2 separate regions of the Homo sapiens genome follow, and region 1 is linked to region 2. Evidence: fine-mapped QTL for protein levels in blood plasma. A gene starts in region 2. The other region holds a variant in brackets. All regions are shown on one strand. Distances are from middle to middle. Region 1 overlaps OSMR (oncostatin M receptor). Region 2 holds the start of OSMR (oncostatin M receptor).

The links. A credible set is the group of variants that fine-mapping cannot tell apart. PIP is the posterior inclusion probability: the model's chance that the variant is causal. Protein levels are from the aptamer-based SomaScan assay of Sun 2018.
Region 1: its variant is the best candidate, but not a certain one, in a credible set for the plasma level of the OSMR protein (Sun 2018, PIP 0.53).

Annotation. Positions count from the first base shown.
Region 1 is chr5:38,904,133-38,912,132 of GRCh38, forward strand. It overlaps OSMR (oncostatin M receptor), which reads left to right. Exons shown (of 18, transcript NM_003999.3): 9 at 221-371. Among named protein-coding and RNA genes, the nearest start is that of OSMR, 62 kb to the left of the region's middle. RefSeq lists enhancers at 3,500-4,000, 4,001-4,501. The variant C/T (reference allele first, on the strand shown) is at 3,188.
Region 2 is chr5:38,836,635-38,852,714 of GRCh38, forward strand. OSMR (oncostatin M receptor) reads left to right here and starts at 9,378. Exons shown (of 18, transcript NM_003999.3): 1 at 9,378-9,753. OSMR-DT (OSMR divergent transcript) reads right to left here and starts at 9,195. Exons shown (of 4, transcript NR_109951.1): 1 at 9,034-9,195.

The sequences.
Region 1 (8,000 bases), 63 kb after region 2:
GGTGTGGGTCATCTGTTTTAAAAGGTCCATGAAATTAATCATACACTTTTATGGTTAGGAAATGGGCCTTGAAGATTTTTTTCCCCCCAAAGAAGAACTGATCTTACTCCAGGTCAGGATTTGCTGTGCTCTGGTTTGCCTTTGTAATGGGATGCACTCACCAATGTTTCTGTCTTGTTCTTTTCTCTTTTTTCTTTTCTTCTCTTTTTTGATCAAGCAGTACAATGTTTCCATCAAGGTGAACGGTGAGTACTTCTTAAGTGAACTGGAACCTGCCACAGAGTACATGGCGCGAGTACGGTGTGCTGATGCCAGCCACTTCTGGAAATGGAGTGAATGGAGTGGTCAGAACTTCACCACACTTGAAGCTGGTATGTTCAGCCCCTGGCATTTAACCCAAAGAAGTAGGTCTTAGGAGTTAGACTGGTTTCCTTAAGAGATTTTGGTTGTACCAAAAACTAAGAGAAAAATATTTAAACAGAGGCGGGGTAGCATTTAAAAAATTAGATTAGGTGCCTCATGAGAAGTGAATGGGAAACCATCCACCTCAGACAGTTGACAGTAGTATTTTATTTATACTGCCTATCTTCTCTCTTACCTTTCATTTTCCCAAAATGGTTTCAAGCCATCACTTTGCTGGATTCACAGTAGATCTGGAGCTATATAAATTAGTATACACCTTTAATTCAGGACAGTGGAAGTGTTAATGACAAGGAAAGCATTGGTCTCATCCTAAACAACTTGAGGCCATGTTTGGAAATGTAATGACATTTGGAACCTTAATGGTTATTTGTGAGTCATTTGTTCCGGTGATGCCACACTGTGTGCCCTCTCCAGCATGCTCTGTGGCAGGGTTTCCTCAGTATTGACTGCAAACTTTTCCTGCTAAATAACTATGTCTGAGAACTCAAATGGGCCTCAGGAGATTTGATGGCCCAATCCTGCTTCCATCTCCCTCCAACTCAATGTCATAAAGGATAACTGTTGCCCATTTTACAGATGAGGCAACTTGCACCCATAACTGAAGAGATTTGCCCTGATTGCAGTTACTGAATGGTACAGACATCGTAATAATCTTAGGAGTGCAGTGGCTCACACCTGTAATCCTAGCACTTTGGGAGGCCGAGGAAGGTGGATCACGTGGTCAGGAGTTCGAGACCAGCCTGACCAACATGGTGAAACCCCATCTCTACTAAAAATATAAAAATTAGCCAGGCGTGGTGGCACACGCCTGTAATCCCAGCTACTCGGGAGGCTGAGGCAGGAGACCGCTTGAACCTGGGAGGTGGAGGTTGCAGTGAGCTGAGATCGTGCCACTGCACTCCAGCCTGGGCAACAGAGTGAGACTCCATCTCAAAAAAAAAAAAAATCATAGGAGTCAACATTTACTGTGAGCCATACATAGCTCGAAGGGCCCTCTGTGCTCCTCTCTTTTCATCCTGACAACACGCAGTAGGTGCTCTTATGATCCTCATTTTATGCCAGAGGATATCAGGGCACAGAAAGATTAAGTAATTTAACTGGTTCAGCCAGGCACTGACTGAGCTGCGACTCACGTCCAGGCAGCCTGACACCAGAGCTCCACCCTTAATCAGAGCTCAATTCTGTGTGTTCTCTCTCTTGGTGTTATTACAACCTCTAGATCTTGTTGATTCAAGTCCTGGCTATTTTAGTGCCAAAGGAAGGATTATACATATGTATTTTATTATTCTTCTTATTTGTGTATGGCAGCTGGCAGAACTCTTTCTGTCTGATTCTGGGAGGACCATTTTAAAGCAGTGACTCTAATTTGGGGGTAGTGGGCACCGCTAATCAGAATCCACACATGAGGATGGTCATTAGTCAAGTTCTGCAGGCCTCCCCGCTTCCCTGGTGGTGTCTGCCTATCCTCAAGCCCATTGAGACTCCAGTAATTTTTCCTAGGTGTACGGGTTCCTCAATAATCTTTGTTCTGGAAGGCCCTGTTCCTGAGAGGAATGTTGCATTTTCCTCAGTGTGTTTTAGAAAAGAATTTTTATTATTTTGCTTTACGTTTTCTGTTTTTTTTTTGAAAATTTATTCCAACATAACTAAAATTATGTAAAAAGGGAAGATGGCAAAAGAATAGAGTTTCTTTTAGATTATAGTAATAATCTAACATCTTGAAAACGCTTAACTTTGCTTTTGATGATGACAAGAAAATGAGATGAATCTACTGAAGGTGAACCTATAGGAATTTTTTATTACTTCTGATCACGCTTTGCTTAATGCTGGAAAACTCAAATCTTTATGTGTATTATAACCATGCTTAAGTATAATTATAGTGAGCAGACATTGAGTTAAATGAATTGATGGTATAAATGATGTTGTTTATAAAATATAGTGCTATCAACTGTATTGTAGCACTTTTTTGTTATAAATAGTAATTTACAAGCCAGCTGAAGATTTTGCATTGAGCTTAGATATTGTCCCTGAGTATTTCAATAAAGTTTTAAATTTAATATTGGCTTCTCCAATGACTTATTTAGCAAATTGAAATCTGCTTTAATAGATTTAAAAATATATGGCCACCTTTAACTTAAAGTATAAAGTGTTGAGTCAGCAACTAAAATAAAAAACTTAAATGTCAATTATTAGGCAAAAAAGATTATATTTTTATAAGATAGAGAGATACATTTTAATGTTATGTTCCAAAACAGTTCTTCTTTCAAAGAAATGTTCTGAATCAGATCAAAAATTACTTGTCCTCTCACAAACCAAAAACTAAAAAAAATAGGAAAGTTATTTTTTAATATTTGAAACACCTTAATTTTGTTAAATTTTGTTAATTTCGTGACAGTTGCTATTTAACACTTTCACACTTAGCAGCCAAAATTTTTTTAAACCATTTTAGTATGCAGAAATCATATTTAAAAAATAGAAGTTGGAGGTCCTAGCCAGAGGAATCAGGCAAGAGAAACACATCCCAAAAGGAAAAGAAGTCAAACTCTCTTTGCTGATGATATGATTCTATACCTAGAAAACCCTACATTAAGAGTGGACACAGGGAGAATGCAGAAGCTGGGCTGAAGGGTCAGGAAGCTGCATACCCTGCACAGGGCTATGAAGCACCCACACTCGTTCTTGGCCCCCAGCAACTCCTGGGGAAGGGGTTGAACAGGCGGCCTGCCCCTGCCGTGGACCTTTGGAATCCAGGCAGCAGGAAACC[C/T]CACAACCCTCATGGACAATTGGACTGGCAGGAAGAGCTTCTTAGAGAGGTAGTAGGAATAGAGCTCCATCCTGGGCAGGGCCCAGAGGGTTTGGTGCAGAAACATCTGCAGTGGAGCATGGCCAGGGACACAAATCCCCCAAGCCTTGCCTTGCTCCTCTAGGAGACTTTGGCCAAAGGGTGACCATGAGACCTAGACAGAGGAGAATGGTCTTACCCATGAGATGGGGCCAGTCCAATCTGAGTGATCCCCTGTCTGCTGGCCACTCCTGAGGCTCCAGCCTTGCCACACTAGCTGGAGTTGCAGCCTCAGATGCCCAACTATGGTGCTTCCTAGGGGACCATATCATAGCTGCTTTGCTGGCAGATGGCACCTGACCATTGGAGATTTCCAGCAGAACAGTCCCTACTGACATGCATCAGCCCACCTGCAGCCTCCCCCAACCACAGCCTACCCAATGCCACCTTGCCAGTATGCACTTGTCCATGGTCACCCCACCACCACTTTGCCAGTGCACACGTGTGGGTGGACCTTGCCTCTTCTCCTCCAATGGCTTATGTGTGCACATATCCCACTGCTGCTGTTGGCATAAGCACAACGTGTGGCCCTGCCTCCCCTGGTGCTTCCATTTCTGGTGTGAAAGAGTGCATGGACACCAGCAGCCCCACCCCCACTCCTGCTGACACTGCCACCAGCGTGAATGTGTGCATGGCCCCACAACCCCCCCAACACCATCACTGGCACAAATGCATGCACAGACACCAGCAACTCTGCCCCTACCCCTGTGCTGCCACTGTGGCTGCTGCAAACCAGCACACAGACAACCACGGCCCTGCCTTCCCAGTGCCACCACAACTGCCAATGTGAATGCATGCATGGATGCTGGCAACTCTACCCACCCCTGCACTGCCACTGCTGCCTGTGCAAACTCATGCACAAAGACTGGTAGCCTCCTGCCTCCACCACTGCCAGTACCAGTGCCAGCACTGTCACTGGCACTTCTGCCTCTGCCTGCATCCCCCCACCAGGGCAACTGCATGCAGGAACCCTGCAGCCCTACTCTCAGAGGTACCCCACCCCAGCTGATGCACATACAAACCACTGCACTGCCCTAGCTGCTGGCACATGTGAGTGAGCATGGACCCTGCTGCCACTACCCTGATGAAGTGCTTTGGCCTGCACCACTCATTGGAGTTTTGTGGCCAGCAGACTGAGATCAGTTCGGCCTCTCCAACACAGCAGGTTCCTAGCCTTGAGGGGCCAGAGAACAAAGGTGGGGGCCTGATACCAGTCCTGCAGAGTTAGAGCATGCAGACCAGGAGTGCTAAGCTGAGCTTTGGCCCCTTAAAATCTTCCAGATGGGAACCCAGTCAACTGAACCCATCTTATATCAAAATCAGATGTCCCCCAAGGACATCAAATAACATAAAACATAAAACAAAACAAAAACCCATCCAAAGGACAGCAACTTCAAAGACTAAAGGAACATCAGCCCACACAGATGAGAAGGAAAGAATGCAAGAACTCAGTGGCAACTCAAAAAGCCAGAGTATCTTCTTACCTCCAAAGACCACACTAGCATCCTAGCAATGGTTCTTAACCTGTTCAAAATGACAGAATTAGAATTCAGAATATGGATAGAAACAAAGATCATCAACATCCAAGAGAAAGTGAAAACCCAATCCGAGGAATCTAAGGAATACAACAAAATGACACAGGAGATAAAAGACAAAATGTCCATTTAAAGAAAGGATCAAACTGATCTGATAGAGCTGAATAATTCATTTCAAGAATTTCATAATACAAATGCAAGCTGAGGAAAGAGTCTCAGCTCAAAGACCAGTTCTTCAATATAACTCAGTCAGACAAAAATAAAGAAAAAAATAAAAATTATTATGTAAAGAGAACAACTCAGCCACTCATTGGTGTTCTTGAAAGAGAGGCAGAGAAGGCAAGCAACTTGGAAAACATATTTGAGGATATTATTCACAAAAATTTCCCCAGCCTCACTGGAGAGGACAACATTCAAATTCAGGAAATGCAGAGAACTCCTGTGAGGTACTATACAAGATGACCATCCCAAAGACACCATGTCTCCAAGACATAGTCATCAGATTCTTCAAGGTTGAAATGAAAGAAAAAATGTTAAAGGCAGCTAGGGAGACAGGGCGGGTCACCTACAAAGGGAACCCCATCACGCTAACAGTGGACTTTTCATCAGAAATGCTACAAGCCAAAAGAGATTGGGGCCTGTACTGAACATTCTTAAAAGAAATTCCAACCAAGAATTTCATATCTAGCCAAACTAAGCTTCATAAGTGAATGAGAAATAAGATCCTTTTCAGACAAGCAAATGCTAACGGAATTCACTACCATTAGACCTGCCTTAGAGGAGATCCTTAAGGAAGTGCCAAATATGAAAAAGGAAGTCCATTACCAACCACCACAAAAACAGACTTAAGTAATAGACCATTGACAGTATAAAGCAACCACGCAATCAAATCTGCATAATAACCAGCTAACAAGACAATGACAGGATCAAATCCACACATACCAGTATTAAACTTGAATGCGCACAGGTTACATGCCCCAATTAAAAGGCACAGAGTGGCAAGTTGGAGAAAGAAGCAAGATCCAACTGTATGCTGTCTACAGGAGACCTATATCACACGCAGTGACACCCACAGGCTCAAAGTAAAGGGATGCAGAAAAATCTACCAACCAAACAAAACAGAAAAAAGCAGGGATTGGTATTCCAATTTCTGTCAAAATTTATTTTAAACCAATAATGATCAGAAAAGACAAAGAAGGGCATTACATAATGGTAAAGAGTTCAATTCAACAAGAAGACTTAACTATCCTAAATATATATGCACCTAACACAAGAGCGCACAGATTCATAAAGTAAGTTCTTAGAGACTTACAAAGAGACTTAGATAGCCACATAATAATAGTAGGAGACTTCAACATTTTGCTGACAGTATTACATGAATTATCAGGGCAGAAAACTAACAAAGATAGTAAGGACCTCAACTTGACACTTGACAAAATGGGCTTACAGAACTCTCCACCCCAAAACAAATATACATTATTCTCATCTGCACATGGCATATACTCTAAAACTGACTTCACAATTAGACATAAAACAATCCTCAGCAAATTAAAAGAAAACCCGAAATAATACCAAACACACTCTCAGGCAACAGCACAATAAAAATAGAAATGAGTACGAAGAAAATTACTCAAAACCACCCGATTACATGGAAATTAACCTGCTCCTGAAAGACTTTTGGGTAAACAATGAAATTAAGGCAGAAATTAAGAAATTATTTGAAATTAATGAGAAGAAAGATAACAATATACCAGGATCTCTGAGACACAGCAAAGCCATGTTAAGAGTAAAGTTTTGGCTGGGTGCGGTAGCTCACACCTGTAATCCCAGCACTTTGGGAGGCCAACGTGGGCAGATCACGAGGTCAGGAGTTTGAGACCAGCTTGGCCAATATGGTGAAACCCCATCTCTACTAAAAAATACAAAAATTAGCCAGGCGTGGTGGCACGTGCCTGTAGTCCCAGCCAGTCGGGAGGCTGAGGCAGGAGAATTGCTGGAACCTGGGAGGTGGAGGTTGCGGTGAGCTGAGATTGCATCACTACACTCCAGCCTGGGTGACAAAGATCTCAAATTAACAACCCAACATCACACCTCAAAGAAGTAGAGAAACAAGAACAAACCAACACCAAAGCTGTCAGAAGACAAGAAATAACCAAAATTAGAACTGAACTGAAGGAAATTGAGATGCAAAAAACTATACAAAAGATCAACGAATCCAGGAGTTATTAAGAAGAATAAGTTTCATAGATCACGACCTAGACTAATAAAGAATAAAAGAAGATCCAAATAAACACAATCAGAAATGTTAGAGGACATTACCACTTGACCCCATAGAAACACAAAAACTCTCAGAGATTACTGTGAGCACCTTTTTGGACACAAACTAGAAAACATACAGCCTGGAAACATACAGCCTCTCAAGATTGAACCAGGAAGAAATTGAATCCCTGGACAGACCAATAGTGGGATCTGAAACTGAATCAGTAACAAAAAGCCTAGGAACCAGAGAAAGCCCAGGACCAGATGCATTCACAGCCAAATTCTGTCAGAGTTATAAAGAGCTGGTACCATTCCTACGGAAACTATTCCAAAAAAACTGAGTTGGGGGACTCCTCCCTAACTCATTCTGTGAGGCCAGCATCATTCTGACACTAAAACCTGTCAGAGACACAACAAAAAGAGAAAACTTCAGGTCAATATCCTTGATGAACATAGATGCAAAAATCCTCAACAAAATACTAGCAATCCAGATCCAGCAGCACATTAAAAAGCTAATCCACCACAATCAAGTAAGCTTTATCCCTGGGATGCAAGGTTGTGTCAGCCTACGCAAATCACTAAATGTGATTCATCACATAAACCGAACTAAAAACAAAAACCACACAATCATCTCAATATATGCAGAAAAAGCTTTTGATGAAATTCAATATCCATTCATGTTAAAAACTCTCAACAAACTACATGTTGAAGGAGCATACCTCAAAATAAGAGCCTAGATCTATGACAAATCCACAGCCAACATCATACTAAATGGGCAGAAGCTGGAAGCATTCCACTTGAGAACTGGAATAAGACAAGGATGTCCACTCTCACCACTCCTATTCAATATAATATTGGAAGTCCTAGCCAGAGCAATCAGACAAGAGAAAGAAAAAAAAAAGCATCCAAATAGAAAAAGAGGAAGTCAGAAGTCAAACTAT
Region 2 (16,080 bases):
CCACAAGAATAACTTGTTACCAATTTCTTGTAATCCTATCCAGAACATTCTTATGTATCTACTCCATAAATATTAAGAAATTAAATAGATGAAATGGATATACTATATATACATTTCTGACTTCTGCTTTTTCACTGAGTTGTGCATGATGGACATATTTCCATAGGTGCACACATATATAATCTTCCTTCTTTTGAAAGAATGAATCATAGTTTTCAGTCTTCTATTAGCAGATTTTTAGATTGTAGTTCTTTGTTACTACAATATTCTTCTAATGAGCATTCGTGTGTTTGTGTGTGTGTATATAATTTTGCAAGTATGGATGTTTGTAAGCCTAAATATCCAGTCAAGCAGAATATTCTTTAACTTTTTTATTCTTTTTAAAAACAGGGAAGATTTTCAGAAGAAATTGCCTATTGTCGTCTTCTTTTTTTTTGAGATGGAGTCTCGCTCTGTTGCCCAGGCTGGAGTGCAGCGGCACCATCTCGGCTCACTGCAACCTCCAGCTCCTGGGTTCCAGCGATTCTCCTGCCTCAACCCCTGGAGTAGCTGGGACTACAGGCATGCATGAGTACGCCTGCTAATTATTGTATTTTTAGTAGAGACAGGGTTTCACCATATTGGCCAGGCTGGTCTTGAACTCCTGACCTCAGGTGATCTGCTCGCCTCGGCCTCCCAAAGTGCTGGGATTACAGGGGTGAGCCACCATGCCCAGCCTGTCTTCTTTTTCAAAACAAACATTTACAATTTTATGTTTAGGCATCATGTTCCATGATCTTATGATAGGAAGATAAGTTCTTATAATTATTTGTGGTTTGAGAGCTAAGAAAATTTATATAATAACATTTCTTTCTTTCTTGGGTGTGCTATCATTTTCTCTCTTAGCTTGGTTGCTTCGTATTAAATTTGAATAAACATGTTTCCCTAGCCTGTTCTCCATATATTTCCCGTGGGAGTATGAAAACTATCTGACCATTATTCCAAAGTGACTAAGCATCATAGGCCACAGTATAATTGGACAAAAGGAGCTACATTTAAGTAGCTGATAAGATTGAGTATAAAAGTGAGTGCTTTTAGGAAGTTTTTGTTTTAGTGTACATGGAGGTAAGTTAAGCACAAATAAGGTAACAAACATAAAGGTATAGCTTACTGTAACTCACTCAAATGAATTTTGTGTTTAGCATTTGAACAAAGTTCAGAGGAAATCCAAGAATGCATTTAACTATTCTCTTTTTTTGATTAAAATTCTTTCCTTTGTATTATAGTGGTATTAATATTTATTTAAGCCTTCATTCTAAAGTGATGTTCAGCCATAATAGATTAACCGTACCTGATTTCAGAAGGTTTTTACTCAATTTCCAGATTTAGGTCTATGCAAATGTATTTCAATCTTCTGAAAAACTGGGTTGCATCCAAAAGAATGTTCTACTGGAGAGAAATCTAATTTAGCAAAGGAAACAGTTCATACTAGCTCCTCCCAATAACCTAGCCACTTAGCAGATATAACTACAATTGCAGGGAGTGCTACTTTCAGCCATTGCTGAGTAGCTCTGTTTAATTGACTGCCCCTCCCCAACATATAACAATATAAAACACTAGAAAAATATTGTTAAAAATTAAAAACAATTATCGGCAGTGGAGAGTGACCAACACCAGGCAGATTGTGGAGGAAAGTCAACACTTGGCAGAGGAAAGGCATGGAGCAACTTTCCCAAATTTTATGACCCTCAGCCCAAGACTAGTGCATGTCTGTGCAATGTGAGGTAGCTAAAACTCTGTTAGAAAATATGCAATATTTCTAGTTTGAAGAACCAGGGGTCAGGGTTCACAGCAACAACATTATTTGGAAAGTGAGGCGGGAAAACATAAAGGAGGGAGCAAGAGAGGAAGAAGCCCAAATTCTGTATTTAAAATAAATACCAATTATTGGATAATCTCTGAACCATGCTTGTGCAAGGCAAACTCAAAGCAGCCTGGTCAACATTAAAAAGTGAATTCAGATTTGAGCTTCTACTTACTGTAAGCAATATCAGGTTTGCAGTTTGAGTTTAACCACACTGCTTGCCATTTTAAAAGATAATCAGTGTCATTGGAGGAATAGAACAGAATCTTCATCACATAATATTTATAACGCACAGGTTGCACTCCAAAATTATTTGACAATCCAAAAATAGGTAAATAAAAAAAACAGGAAAATGTAATCCATTCTTATAAAAGAAAAAAATCAGTGGAGATTGACTAAAAGATGATGTAAATATTGGAATAATGAAGCAATGTTTTAAAAGCAGCAACTATAATAACTATGCTCAATGAAGCAAAGGAAAATATGTTCATAATAATAAAAAGAATAGGGACAACCAGTATAGAAATAGACAATATATTTTAAAAGAACAGATTGAAATTCTAGAACTGAAATATACCATATATATGACACAAAATTTACTAGATGGATATAATAGCCCAACGAATATAACACAAAAGGAATTTGTAAGCTTAAAGATAGTTCAATAGAAATTATTGAATCTGAAGAGCACAGAAAAAAAGTTGAAAAACAACAGAGGCTCATGGGCATTTAGGACTATATTAAGGGGTCTGACATACTTGTAGTCGGAATTTCAAAAAGATAAGAAAGATAATGGTGCAGAAAAGGTACTAAAAAGATATACAGGCTGAAAAATTCTCCAATTTGGTAAAAGACATAAATTTATAAATTCAAGAAGCTTAGCAAATGCCAGGCAGGGTAAATAATAATTTTAAAACTTCTAAGCACATAGTTGATAAACTATTGACAATCAAAGATAATGAGAAAATATTTAAACCAGAGAAAAAATGACACATTATATTGACAGAGGAAAGAAGAATCAAATAATGGCTGACTTCTCATCAGAAGCAATGAAAGGCAGTAAAATGTAGAACAGTATCTTTAAATAGTTGAAAGAAAATAGAATTCTATCCAACAAAAATATTCCTTGAGGACGAAGTGAAATAAAGATATTTTCAAATAAAATAAGACTAATACTATGTATCTCCAATAGACTTCCAATAAAAAATATACTAAAGTAAGTTTGTTAGGCTTACAGAAATGCTACCAGAGAGAAGCTTAGATCTTTGGGAAGGATTTAAGAACATTAAAGGTAAATATGTGTATAAATATAAAAGAGTAGTTTTCCTCTTAATTTCTTTAAAATACATACTATATTGTGGGTTTTATCTTGTCTGTAGATGTAATACACTTTACAACTATAGTGTAAAGGATGGGGTGTGTGGTTAAATGGACCTATTAAGTGAAAAGGTACAATACTATTTCAAGTACACAGTGAAATTTAAGAATGTACACTGTAATCCATAGAGAAAACATTAAGACATCATGCAAAGAGAAATAAGAAAAAGACAAAGGCAAATAAAAATGAAATTTAAAAAGCGTTCAAAGGCAGATATGGTGGCTCATGCTTGTAATATCAGCTACTTGGGAGGCTGAGGCGGAAGGATCGCTTAAGGTCAGGAGTTTGAGACCAGCCTGGGCAATGGAGTGAGACCCCAACTCTAAAAAAATTAAAATGGAAATATAAAAAGATAAAAAGTATTTATATAGTCCAGAAAAAAAAGAAGAAAAAGAAGAATAAAAAAACAAAACCAGAGAGAACAAAACACAAAACCTATAGTAAAATGGTAGGCTAAACACAAGCATATCAATAACTGCCTTAAATATAAGTCTACTAAACACTCTCTATCAAATTAAAATGCAGAGATTGTCAGTCAACTTCTAAAAAAAAGTCTCAACTATATGTTTTCTGTAAGAGATTCAGTTTAAATATAAACACAACTATAGACTTATTTCGGATCAACCTTAAGCCAATAGTTTTCAAATATCCAGAAAGTTCCCATCTAATTCTCTCCAAAGTATTTCTCTCTCACTGTATTAATGTTCTAAACTTTAGCATTAACAACTGCACTCAAATTTAGTAAGTGCCATAACCACAGGCCAAGAGAATAAAAGCAGCTATCAATATTCAATATTTTCCCTAAAGTCCCTGAGGGAAAAAAAGTAAAAGATCCAGGGAGGTTCTCCTCATTGTCTGGTTTCTGATGACTTCTGGAAGAAGGTGTGAGCACAATTACAACATCTGGAAGAGGGTGGAATGTGCAAAATCCATCCATCAATCAATCAATCAATTTTCAGATAATATCTAGTTTAATCAAGGAATTCCTGTAGAATTATTGTGGATAATATTATTCATCACTTAAGAGATTTTGAAAGAAAAGCAATTCATCATTAAGTAATTATAGGGAATTCCTAAAATGATAAAATGAGAAAGTCCCACATAGTCTTCTTACGCTCAACATCTTGCTTTGTCATTGCAGTGCCACTTTTTTGGATATTTAGAAGTGTTAGATGTGTAACTGCACCAGACCAGTCTGGTTCAACTTTTTTTTTTTCTTCCAATTTTTATTTTAGGTTCAGGGGGTAGATGTGCAGGTTTGTTATGTGGGTAAGTTGTGTGTCAAGGAGGGGATTGGTGTACAGATTATTTCATTACCTAGGTAATAAGCATAGCACCTGATAGGTAGTTTTTCAATCCTCACCCTCCTCCCTCCAGTAGGCTTTGGTGTCTATTGTTCCATCTTTGTGTCCATGTGTATTCAATGTTTAGCTCCCACTAATAAGAATATGCAGTGTTTGGTTTTCTGTTCCTGTGTTAATTAGCTGGTTCAACTTTATGGTTCACCATTTATATAGCGAAGCTGTGAGTTGTTTTTTAGTTGCCATGGACCCCCAGGTTGAAGGTCATGTAACTTGAGGAGGCTCAGATGAACTAAGAATGCAACCATGGGCAGAACCTAAATGCTTGGATCACTAAATTAAGAAGTGGACACCACATGGCAGGATCCAGGATCCAATGAGATTGCGCCCTGGTGTCACCTCATGGCAGGATCTAGTCAGATGGTGCCTCCCAGCCTCACCTTATTGCAAGATGCAATCAGGTCATGCCTTGTTACCCTCTGGCTATAAAACCTGACCCAAGTGCCAGGTGGGGACACAGATTTGAGCCAGACCCGTGTCCTTGCTTGGTAGCCTTGCAATAAATTTTTCATGCTATGAAAACCGAGTGTTTTGGTGTTTGGCTTTCCATTGCACAGTGGGCAAATGGACCCAGTTCAGTTCAGTAACAGATGTCCTTTAATTAATCAAGCTTTATGATAAATTTCAGATTAAATTTTTTTTTGGAAGACCTGTTTAGCTTTCCACAAAATAATTATTTCCACAAAATAATTTTAATTTCCAATAACTTTTTTTTAGAAATAAGGCCAATATCACCACCAATAATAATCACAGAGGCACGCGTTAAGGCCTAAAAGTGAATCTTTAAGATGTCAATGTCAGCTGGGCACTGTGGCTCACATCTATAATCCCAGAAATCTGGGAGTCTGAGGTGGGTAAATCACTTGAGCCTAGGAGTTCGAGACCAGCCTGGAGAACATGGCAAAACCCTGTCTCTATAAAACATACAAAAATTAGCCAAGCATGGTGGCGCGTGCCTGTAGTCCCAGCTGCTTGGAGGACTGAGGTGGGAGGATTGCTTGAGCCCAGGAGGCGGAGGTTGCAGCGAGCCGAGACTGCACCACTGCATTCCAGCCTGGGTGACACAGACCCTGTCTCATTTAAAAAGAGTCAAATGTGATAATATGCCAACAAAACAGAATTCTACAGAACTTGTCGATGAGGGTAATTGTAAACCATTATCCACTGCTTAGGTGATGAAGTCACTTTCTTCACAAAATCCCCGATACCTTCAAATTCCATCAGTTGGTAACAAAATGCTGCCATCTTGTAATTATAGCTATTTACAGTAGTGGAATAAATAGAATCATAATTATATTTCACAATTTACATAGCTGATTTCATAGATGTATGTAAACATAGATATAGAGATATAGACAAATATAATGTTCCTGACAGTTATAGAACTATTTTTCCTCTGAGAAGTTAGATAGGTTGGCAATACATTCCACTAATCCCTCCTCCATAATAGTTATACATATGAGACTTTCTGATGGAAGATGGAAGATGAAAGAGGATGGATCGAGAATCATTCCCAGGGTTTTAACTTCAGTGTCCAGAGGACACTAAATGAAGGCTGGCCCATTAACTTAGTAAAGGTTAAAGGCTGGACCATTCACTTAGTATAATAAAATCAAGTGAGCATAACTGAAGTTTGAATTCGGGCATACTAATTTCAAAGTACTGTCTGGAGTGCAGATGAAATCATTGCAATGGAAAGGAAGAGCTGAGAGCCATCAAGGCACAAGTGATCATTGAAATCCTGGATGTGAATATGATTATTCAGGGGGCCCTGGGGCCCTGGGAAACACCAACATGTAGGGGGCAAGTGGAGAACAAGAAGTCCAAAAATATGAGGGAGGAGGAAGTCAGGGAAATGAAAGAAGAATGGAGAGAGTATTGCTACTGAAATCAAAAGGAAGAGAGAACGTCAAGAAAGAGTGTTTAATGGGCCGGGCGCGGTGGCTCACGCCTGTAATCCCAGCACTTTGGGAGGCCAAGGCAGGAGGATCACGAGGTCAGGAGATTGAGGCCACCCTGGCTAACACGGTGAAACCCAGTCTCTACTAAAAATACAAAAAAATTAGCTGGGCGTGGTAGCCGGCGCCTGTAGTTCCAGCTCCTCGGGAGGCTGAGGCAGAATGGTGTGAACCCAGGAGGCGGAGCATGCAGTGAGCTGAGATCGTGCCACTGCACTCCAGCCTGTGTGACAGAGCAAGACTCCGTCTCTAAATAAATAAATAAATAAATAAATTAAAAATAAAAACACACACACAAATAAAAAAATAAAAAGAGTGTTTAACGAAGCAGAATAATATGTGCCTTGGCCACACAATCTTATCAAAACTAAGCAAGGATGGATATTTTAGCTCTTAGCTTAATAAGCCATTGGTATTTTTCATCTTTTTCCTATTAGTTATTTTCAGGATAATTGTTTAAAACTAACTTATGGAACATAACCTATGTATCAGTTTCCTAAGGCTGCCATAACACATTACCACAAACTTGGTGGCTTAAAACAACAGAAATGTATTCTCAATCTGGAGGCCAGAAGTCTGAAATGAAGATGTTGGCAGGGCTAGCTTCTTCTTAGGGGTTCAAAGGGAGCCTGTTCCGTTCCTCTCTCCTAGCTTCTGGTGGTGGTCAGCAACCTTGCCATTCCTTGGCTTGAGTCAGCATAAGCAGGATCTGTCTCAGTGGTCACACAGTGTTCTTTCTGGGTGTCTGTGTCCAAATTCCCCCCTTTTCAGAAGTACAGCAGACACTGGATTAATCTTATATGACCTCAGGTTAACTTGATTAAAGCTGCAAAAACATTATTTCCAAATAAACTGATATTTGGAGGTTTTGGGTGGATCTGACTTTATGGACCCAGTGCACCCACTGTTAAGGGTATAATCGCGAATTTATATGGTGCTACTGCATCTAGATTCTAGAATAACGTATAAATTTAAGAAATTAGAATGGTGCAAAAACAGATAAATTATATGTGGGCACCAAATTTTTACACTTCAGTCTCCTTCAATTGCAATAGGAGCCCAAAATAAGCCTCACTTTTTAGAAATTCATACTGGGCTGAATATTTTTATTTGACATCTCATTTGCTAGAAGAGAGATCCCTTTTAACTGTTTCTATAAAGAATAATTTTTTTTCTCAGTAAAATATAAAATCATAAAGACTTTCCAACTCTTGGGCTTGGCAGTTTCCATAACCATGCAGATGGCTAAACTAATGGACTCTTTAAAACTCTTCAAGTAATGAGAGGTGTGGCAAAGGACCATACATTTATTGAGACAAAAATACATTTTATTATCATCAAATATTTACTATGCATCATGGTCTTTGTGGCCCCATTAGGTATTAAGTGTATTAGGGCCTTTAGGCCTTTGTTTTAGGAAAAATAAAAAAACAAAAGGACTCTCAGCTTTCCTTGGGATGACATTGGGGAGGAGCCAGATATGTGAACAAACACAAAAGTAACATTTTAAAATAATTCTGACATTATTTTGAGTCATCCAGTCAATTCAATATAGGATTCTAAGATATGTTTATGGTCGATACTTGTTGATCACTCTTGGTTCCCTCCCCCACCCCCCTCCTACAACCTTGCTTTTGTGATACTTTCCAGGGTCCCCAAACTCAAACCAAACTAGGCTCAGCTGATCTGGAGCAAGGCCCCTTGCCTGCTGATTTGTCAGGCATCCAGACAGGCGAGGCTATGGGAGCTCCCGGTCCGAGGCTGCCTCGGAAGGCTCCTGTTATCCTCTAAGAGAGGTGAAATGCACCTTTCAAAGGCCCAGACACGGTAAAGATTGGATGGCATTTTTGGCCGGGCGCAGTGGCTGACGCCTGTAATCCCAGCACTTTGGGAGGCTGAGGCGGGCGGATCACGAGGTCAGGAGATCGAGACCATCCTGGCTAACACGGTGAAACCCCGTCTCTACTAAACATAGAAAAATTAGCCAGGCGTGGTGGCGGTCGTCTGTAGTCCCAGCTACTAGGGAGGCTGAGGCAGGAGAATGGTGTGAACCCGGGAGGCGGAGCTTACAGTGAGCCGAGATCGCGCCACTGCACTCCAGCCTGGGTGACACAGTGAGATGCCGTCTCAAAAAAAAAAAAAAAAAAAGGTTGAAGATTGGATGGCATTTTTAAGGGGAAAAGTAAACCATGTGTAGCATGTCGTAGCATTGGGAAATAAAGGTTTCGGGACTGTTGTAGCCGAAGAAACTTTGTCGGACAGGGCGTTTCTGGATAGAACGCGAGTAGGGGAAAAATGGGGACCGTTTGATTCGGTTCAAACACGTTTTCGTTGCTCTGGACGCCAAATGGAAACACGGCCAAAATTTAGTTAAAGGACTTCTCTTGCCTGAAGATTTTCGGACGGGGATCTCACGGGTTTGGCCTCTGGGTTGGGATGACAAGTGCCCCTGTGGGATACACAGCCCCAGGCCTCATCGGTCACTCGGCTTACCTCTGGTTCCGCCGGCTGGCCCGTGCGTCCTTGGCCGGGGCAGGAGCAGCGCTGCGCGCGGGGCACGGAGCCTCGGCCGCCGAGTTTTCGGTTTCCAAGTTTCCTTCCCAGGCCTCTCCCACTTCCTCTTCTCACCAGTGCCCGCCCGCCCGCAAAGTCCGGGTTGTGAGGCTGCGCCTCCCCCAGGATCGCGGCCGCCTCCCCCCGGGACTGAAGGGAGGGAATTCCTGTGGGTCCCAGGAGTGCCAAGAGTGCGCAGCAAGACGGGAAATTGCAAAAGACCTCACCCCTCTGCCCTCCCCCGCGGTTTTCCAGTAACTCCCGCCCCTCCGCGCTTGCCCCGCAGCTGATTCATAGCCCCGGCCCGGGCCGCCTCTGCACGTCCGCCCCGGAGCCCGCACCCGCGCCCCACGCGCCGCCGAGGACTCGGCCCGGCTCGTGGAGCCCTTCGCCCGCGGCGTGAGTACCCCCGACCCGCCCGTCCCCGCTCTGCTCGCGCCCTGCCGCTGCGCCGCCCTCGGTGGCTTTTCCGACGGGCGAGCCCCGTGCTGTGCGGGAAAGAATCCGACAACTTCGCAGCCCATCCCGGCTGGACGCGACCGGGAGTGCAGCAGCCCGTTCCCCTCCTCGGTGCCGCCTCTGCCCAGCGTTTGCTTGGCTGGGCTACCACCTGCGCTCGGACGGCGCTCGGAGGGTCCTCGCCCCCGGCCTGCCTACCTGGTGGGTGAAAACTAAATGATTCATTCCTTACAGGCCGCACAGTGCCGAGTCGCCCATTTCTCAGACTGTTTGAAATTCACCATCCCAGCGCCTTTTTCTCAAATGATGGTGGAATGTTTGTTGAGTGGAAAATTCCCACTTGAATCCCTCTTTCCTCTCTCCCAACACATCGTGTGGAGGAGTTCATTGCTTCCCCTACCTCTCCTCTCGTAACCCTTGACTCCCACCTGAGAGAGCCATTTTTCTGGGAATCCGTGTATCTCTCCCACCTGGTCCCTAGCGTAGAAGCGGGAGGAGCTCAAGCACAGGTGGAGAGAGGAATCCCCGGGCGACTCTGCAATAGCGTCCGTCCGGGGCGCTTACCTTCTTCTCCAGCCACTTGAGTGGAAGTGGCCCTCTACATTCTGGAAACCTAGGCACGGAGGGGTTCAGTAACTTGTCCAAGGCCATATGGCTAGCTGTGAGGGCACTGAAATCCGAGCCCGGCTCTCGCAGGCCAGGGCTTTACCCCTGACACCGCGATTCCTTTCTCGATAGTTCTTCATCTGCCCTTCATCCACCTACCCATGCATGCCTGCATCCGTCCATCCATCCTGCCTGCCTTGCTGCGGGAGGCACAGTGCTAGGTGCTGCTGATGGAGTGGCTTGGTAACAGACCTGCCTTGAAAACACTTTGGGAACAAGATATTCAAGAGAAGTAAATGGAAGGGTCTATGAAGGCAGAGAAGATAGAATTGAATGTAGGATACTTAGTTTGAGCTAGAAGGAATTCTGATGGAGGAGAAAGAAATTTTTAGGTTTTATTCCCAAGATTAAAACTGACTTTGGAACATGGGTCAAACTACTTATCACCTCTTAGTTTCCTTGTCTGCAAATAATAATGGTTCATACTTACTGTGAACCAGCCCCTATTCTAAGCACTTGACATATGCTAGCTCATTTAAGCTTCACGGGTGAGGCGGGTACTAGTTTTTTATTATATTTTATTGAGGAAACTGAGGCCCAAAGAGGTTTTGTAACTTTTCTAGGGTTACACAGCTAGCAGGTGACAGTATCAGGATTTGGGTTTGGAGTCTGCTCATGATCACCGTGCTGTAGCTCAAACTCTAAGACTGGGTGGGGTGTTTCATTATGGTCTTGCTTTGTCTCTCTCCTGGGCTGCTTTAAAATGCACTCAGAGCCCTTGATGTCCCCAAACTCCGCTGTGTCTGAGAATCATTTCTTGAGCTTTCAAAGCATCAAACTCCAAACACAGCCTTCTATTCAGAATCTTCAGGAAATACTCAGTTTGTTTTCCCCGTAGCATTTGTTCAGTGCCTCCAGTGGCAGGAAGCTCACCACCTCACATTTTATTGTAGGAAGAGCTAGTTCTCTGCTGTAAATTGCCTCCTTGTGACTTACATCTTGGTCCCAGTTCCCGTTTGTCCCAGCAGGTGTGGCTAAGCCTTTTGTATCAAAGGTGGCTTTGAGAGAAAAAGGCTGGTCTTGGGTGTTTCTTCCGCAGGGACCCGAGCCGCATTGGGGAGAACACATAAACACTGGTTCTTTCCCCCTCTACCCTTTTCTTTAACCTGAACAGACCAGGAACACATGCAGAGGTGTTCCTGGATCTCTCATGTTTTTGTAACCCTTTTGTCCTGAGGACAAAACCGAATCAGGAGAACTGTTACGGTTTTCAAAGGGGAATCAGTGGTACTGTATTTAACAAGAAGAAGGTGTGTATTTTCCTTGTGGGAAAGGACTGGGGCATTCATTGGCTGCAGTAGAAGAGAATCTTAGTGAGTGTGGTCTTGCTCACTTACAGGAACTGTGAGCCTTGGCCCTCCTTTCGCTGGGGGAGAAAATCCTTCTTGATTGCTTAAAAAATGTGTAAAATGGGGGGAAAAAAACCCAAACCAAAACAAATAGAATATCATGGCCTTGCTGGAGAAATCCCCTCCTCCAAGCAGGCTTCTTTGTAGCTACATGAAGAGAGAATTTCTTTTCCAACAGCTGTGTTGGTGGCTTCATAGCCTTCCTTCCCTCCTCATTTTAGTTGTACTGGTCGCTCTGCATTTGTGCACTCCACGTTGTATTCTATTTTTGTGTTTTAAAAATAATACAAATAATAACAACTCATTCTCACTCAATATAGAAGTGAAGTGAAATGTAGACGTGCCATCACCATCCTCCCTCCTCCCACTCAGAAGAGGGAAGGTTAAGTTTGATAATACCATTCTAAGGCTTGTTTTTCTTTTCTATAGTTTTACATAATACATACATATACATATGTTTTAAATATGCAAATTATCTTACTATACTTATTGTACAGCTTGCTTTTTCACTTTCCAAGTCTTAGAGATCTTTCCATTGTCTCTAGATACCTCTTTTGTTAATGGCTACGTGTTATTCTTTTTGTGTGTGTGTGAGATGGTCTCACTCTGTCACACAGGCAGAAGTGCAGTGTCATGATCATGGCTCACTGCAGCCTCGACCTTCTGGGCTCAAGTGATCCTCCCACCTCAGCCTCCTGAGAAGCTGGAACTACAGGCACATGACACCACACCTGACTTTTTTTTTTTTGTATTTTTTGTAAAGATTGGGTCTCTCCATGATGCCCAGACTGGTCTTGAACTCCTGGGTTCAAGCAGTCCACCTGCCTTGGCCTCCCACAGTGCTAGGATTACAGGCGTGAGCCACTGCGCCCGGCCAGCTACATGTTATCCTAAAGTAGAAATAGAATGTAATTTATCCATCCTTTCCTATATTGATGGACATTCAGCATTAGCAACGTTGCTTCAGAGCAGATCACACATTCATCTTCCTGCTCAAGTGTGAGTATTTCTGTGGAAGAGAATCTGAGGAGAGGTATTCCTGTGTCAAAGGGTTTGCCCCTTTTTCCACTTGATAGATACGAAGTGGAAGGTAACGATGTAACTTAATATTTTTGTAAAGTTTTAGACAGCTGATCCAATAGCATTTATTTAATAATTCATCTTTTTTCCAACTCATTTGAAATTCTGTTTTTATCATTAAATAAATTCCTGTTTGTAAAAGGGTCTGTGTCAGGATTCTATTCTGTTTCATTGATCTTTTTTTTTGTTTGTTTTTCCCTAAACCAATATTACTCTGAGTTAACTACTGTAGCTTTATAGTGTTTTTGAAAATCTTGTGGTATATATTTGTGCTTTTTAAAACAACTTTTTTTATAAATCACATACATTTTCTCTTTACAAATAGCCTGTCAAGTTTAATAAAATCCTATTTTTAATTAAGATTTTATTGAGTTTATAATTGTTAGCAATTTTTAATGCTTTAATGTCCACTTTGGTATGAGCTCCAAGCTTTAAGGAAACTGTGTCATGTGAACTTTGGTTAATGACTTATCTGATTTCAAATATTGGCTACACATCAGATTAACTGGGTCAGTTTGGATAAATTACTTGTCAACTTTCTTATCCTTAATTTCCTCCTCTGTGAATGGGAATAATAATATAATCCTTTTCTTAGCGCTGTTGTGAGGATTCAATTAATAAATGCATGTACGTCACTTAGCAAAGCACCTTGTAGAGAGTTAGTATCTTATACATGCTAGCTGGGATCTTTTTCATATTTATATCCTACTCATGGTTTTGCAGAGTGCCCTATTGGTAATAGGAACCAGTAAATATTTCCTTTATTTATTGGTAGTATCCTAAGAGACAAAAATATATCATATATTTTAAATATAGTAGTGTTTCTCAAACTTGAATGTGCATATGAATCACCTGAGGATATTATTTAAATGCAGATTCAAGAGGTCTAAGGTCTGGCCTGAGATTTTGCATTTCTGACAAGCTACCAGGTGATGTCAATACTGCTGGTCCTTTGTCCACATTTGGGTGTACAGTCTTGTACAACTATTTAAATTTATGCTGCTAGTGATAGTACTTCCTATTTGTAATGAATATGATTGAAAGCATTTTTAAATTGATTTCTTTTAAAATTACATGCTAAAGAACTAAATTATAGTTGTTTTCCTTTCTTCCTTCTTCTCTCCCTCTCTTCCTTTATTTTTGTTAAAAGAAAGAGGGTTGGTGAGATCGCTAAATAGAATACCTAGCTCTGTTCTTAGATCTAGAGTCATTGAGGCAATTAACTATCTGGATTATTTTAAACTGTTGACTTAAGATGAAGACAGTCATATAAAATATATGCAGCCTGAATATGACATTTAATGTCAACTAAAGAAAAGCACAATTGTAAGTGGCTTCTGCAAATAGAAAAATGTAAGACATAAAGAACACTTGGAAAAATGTAAGACAAAATAATTCTCAGAAAAGAGTGATTGAGGTTTCATTGTTCATGTGTAATGCCAGCTTTTGAGAAGATGTGCATCAACAGAAGTTACGCTTTCTTGTGAGTAAATTTTTCATACACCGTGGTATTTCTTGGTCACCTCTTTCTACTTTCAATCTCCCTAATGGGGGATTTTGAGCAAATTTACTTCATATATATACTTCAGTGTGTCTGTCTGTCAGCCGGGGATGGTAGTATGATTTTTCTACTCAGGACACTGGTTACTTTTTGCATTTGGAAATAGATCATTAAAGTATCTACACTCTCTCAGAACCTAAGAGGTTACATTTTCTGTACAGAAAAACACGGCATCCTCCCAGGCTGATCCAGTAGGTAAAAACTGCCAACCTTTTTCAAGTCTGTTCAATACCATGGGTTGGACTGGAAACACAAACACTGTCAACTAGTTTAATCATGTTGGGATATATGGTTTCAAGTGTGGAAATAAGGAAATTGCCACTTGCACAAGACTGAGCTTAATATGTTTAAAACATGCACACACACACGTTTTAAGGAATGCTTTATGTTGCAGAACTGTATAACTTAAAGTGAGTTATCTATAATTTCTCTTATTCTGCCCACCTCCCTCCCTCCATCTCAGCTCTAAATTTATAACTTAGTAAGTGGGTGTGTCTTTGGGGCTGGTTTGGATCCCTCAAGTAGAAGAGAGCAAGCCAGAAACACATGTGCAAGAGATTTACTGGGGGAAGGACTTGTAAGGGGAAAGGGAGTAACTGTAGGCACAGAGCCTTCAGACCCAGTGCAGGTGTGATGCCTGTGGAAGGAGATGGGGAGGAAGGAAGGTGGGAAGGAGTTGCTTCCAGCTGCAGCCATTGGGTGGGAGCAGCCTGGGGTGTGTGAATCTTCCACAGATCTGAAGGGGCAGTGTCTGAAGGCTGTCAGTCATCTACGCTCTCTTGAAGGGAGCACTGAGGGGCACAGCTGCACACTGCCACAGTTCTCTTTCAGAGATGTTCTTAGGTATATACTGTTTTGAAACTGACTTATTCACTGATGTGGTTTGGCTGTGTCCCCACCCAAATCTCATCTTGAACTGTAGCTCCCATAATTCCCTCATGTTGTGGGAGGAACCCAGTACGAGATAACGGAATCATGGGGGCAGTTTCCCCCATACTGTTCTCGTGGTAGAGAATAAGTCTCACGAGATCTGATGGTTTTATAAGGGGAAACCACTTTCACTTGGCTCTCATTCTTCTCTTGTCTGCCACCATGTGAAATGTGCCTTTCTCCTTCCACCATGACTGTGAGGCCTCCCCAACCACGTGGAACTGTGAGTCCATTAAACCTCTTTCTTTTGTAAATCACCCAGTCTCTGGTATGTCTTTATCAGCAGTGTGAAAACAAACTAATACATTCACTCAATATTTTAGAATATTTTTCCATGTCAGTGCATGGATCTAGTTCATTCTTTTTAACAGTTGCATGTTGTTCCTTTGTAGAAATGCACCATAATTATTTTTCTGTTCTTTTTGAAAGGCTCTTGGATTTTTATTTTTTCCCTCATGTACACAGTGCTATAACAGTCTTTAAACACATTTGCGTACAACATGTGCAATACTCTGTCTATCATCTGTAGGGCAAAATTTCAGCAATAGAATTACAGAATGATTTCTGGATCAAGAGAAATACACATAGAATTTTAGTAGATGTGGTCAAATGGACCTCTGTAAGGTTGTATGCTTTGATCATTAGTGAGTCACAATGCTTATTTCTGTAAACTCTTACCAATGTGAGGTATTAAGACCTTTTTAAACGTTACCAATTGGATACTACATAGACATACACAGACATACACACACACACAATTGTCTTTAATTCTTAGTGATCTTGCCAAGTTTTTTGTAGGGAAGGGTGATATTTGTATTTCCCTCTTTTCATGAATTATGTATTCATGTTTTTCTACAGAGTTGTATGCCTGTTTTTACTTATTTCTAAGAACTCTTTGTATATGAGGGATAGCTCTTTGTGATACATATTGAAACTATTGTT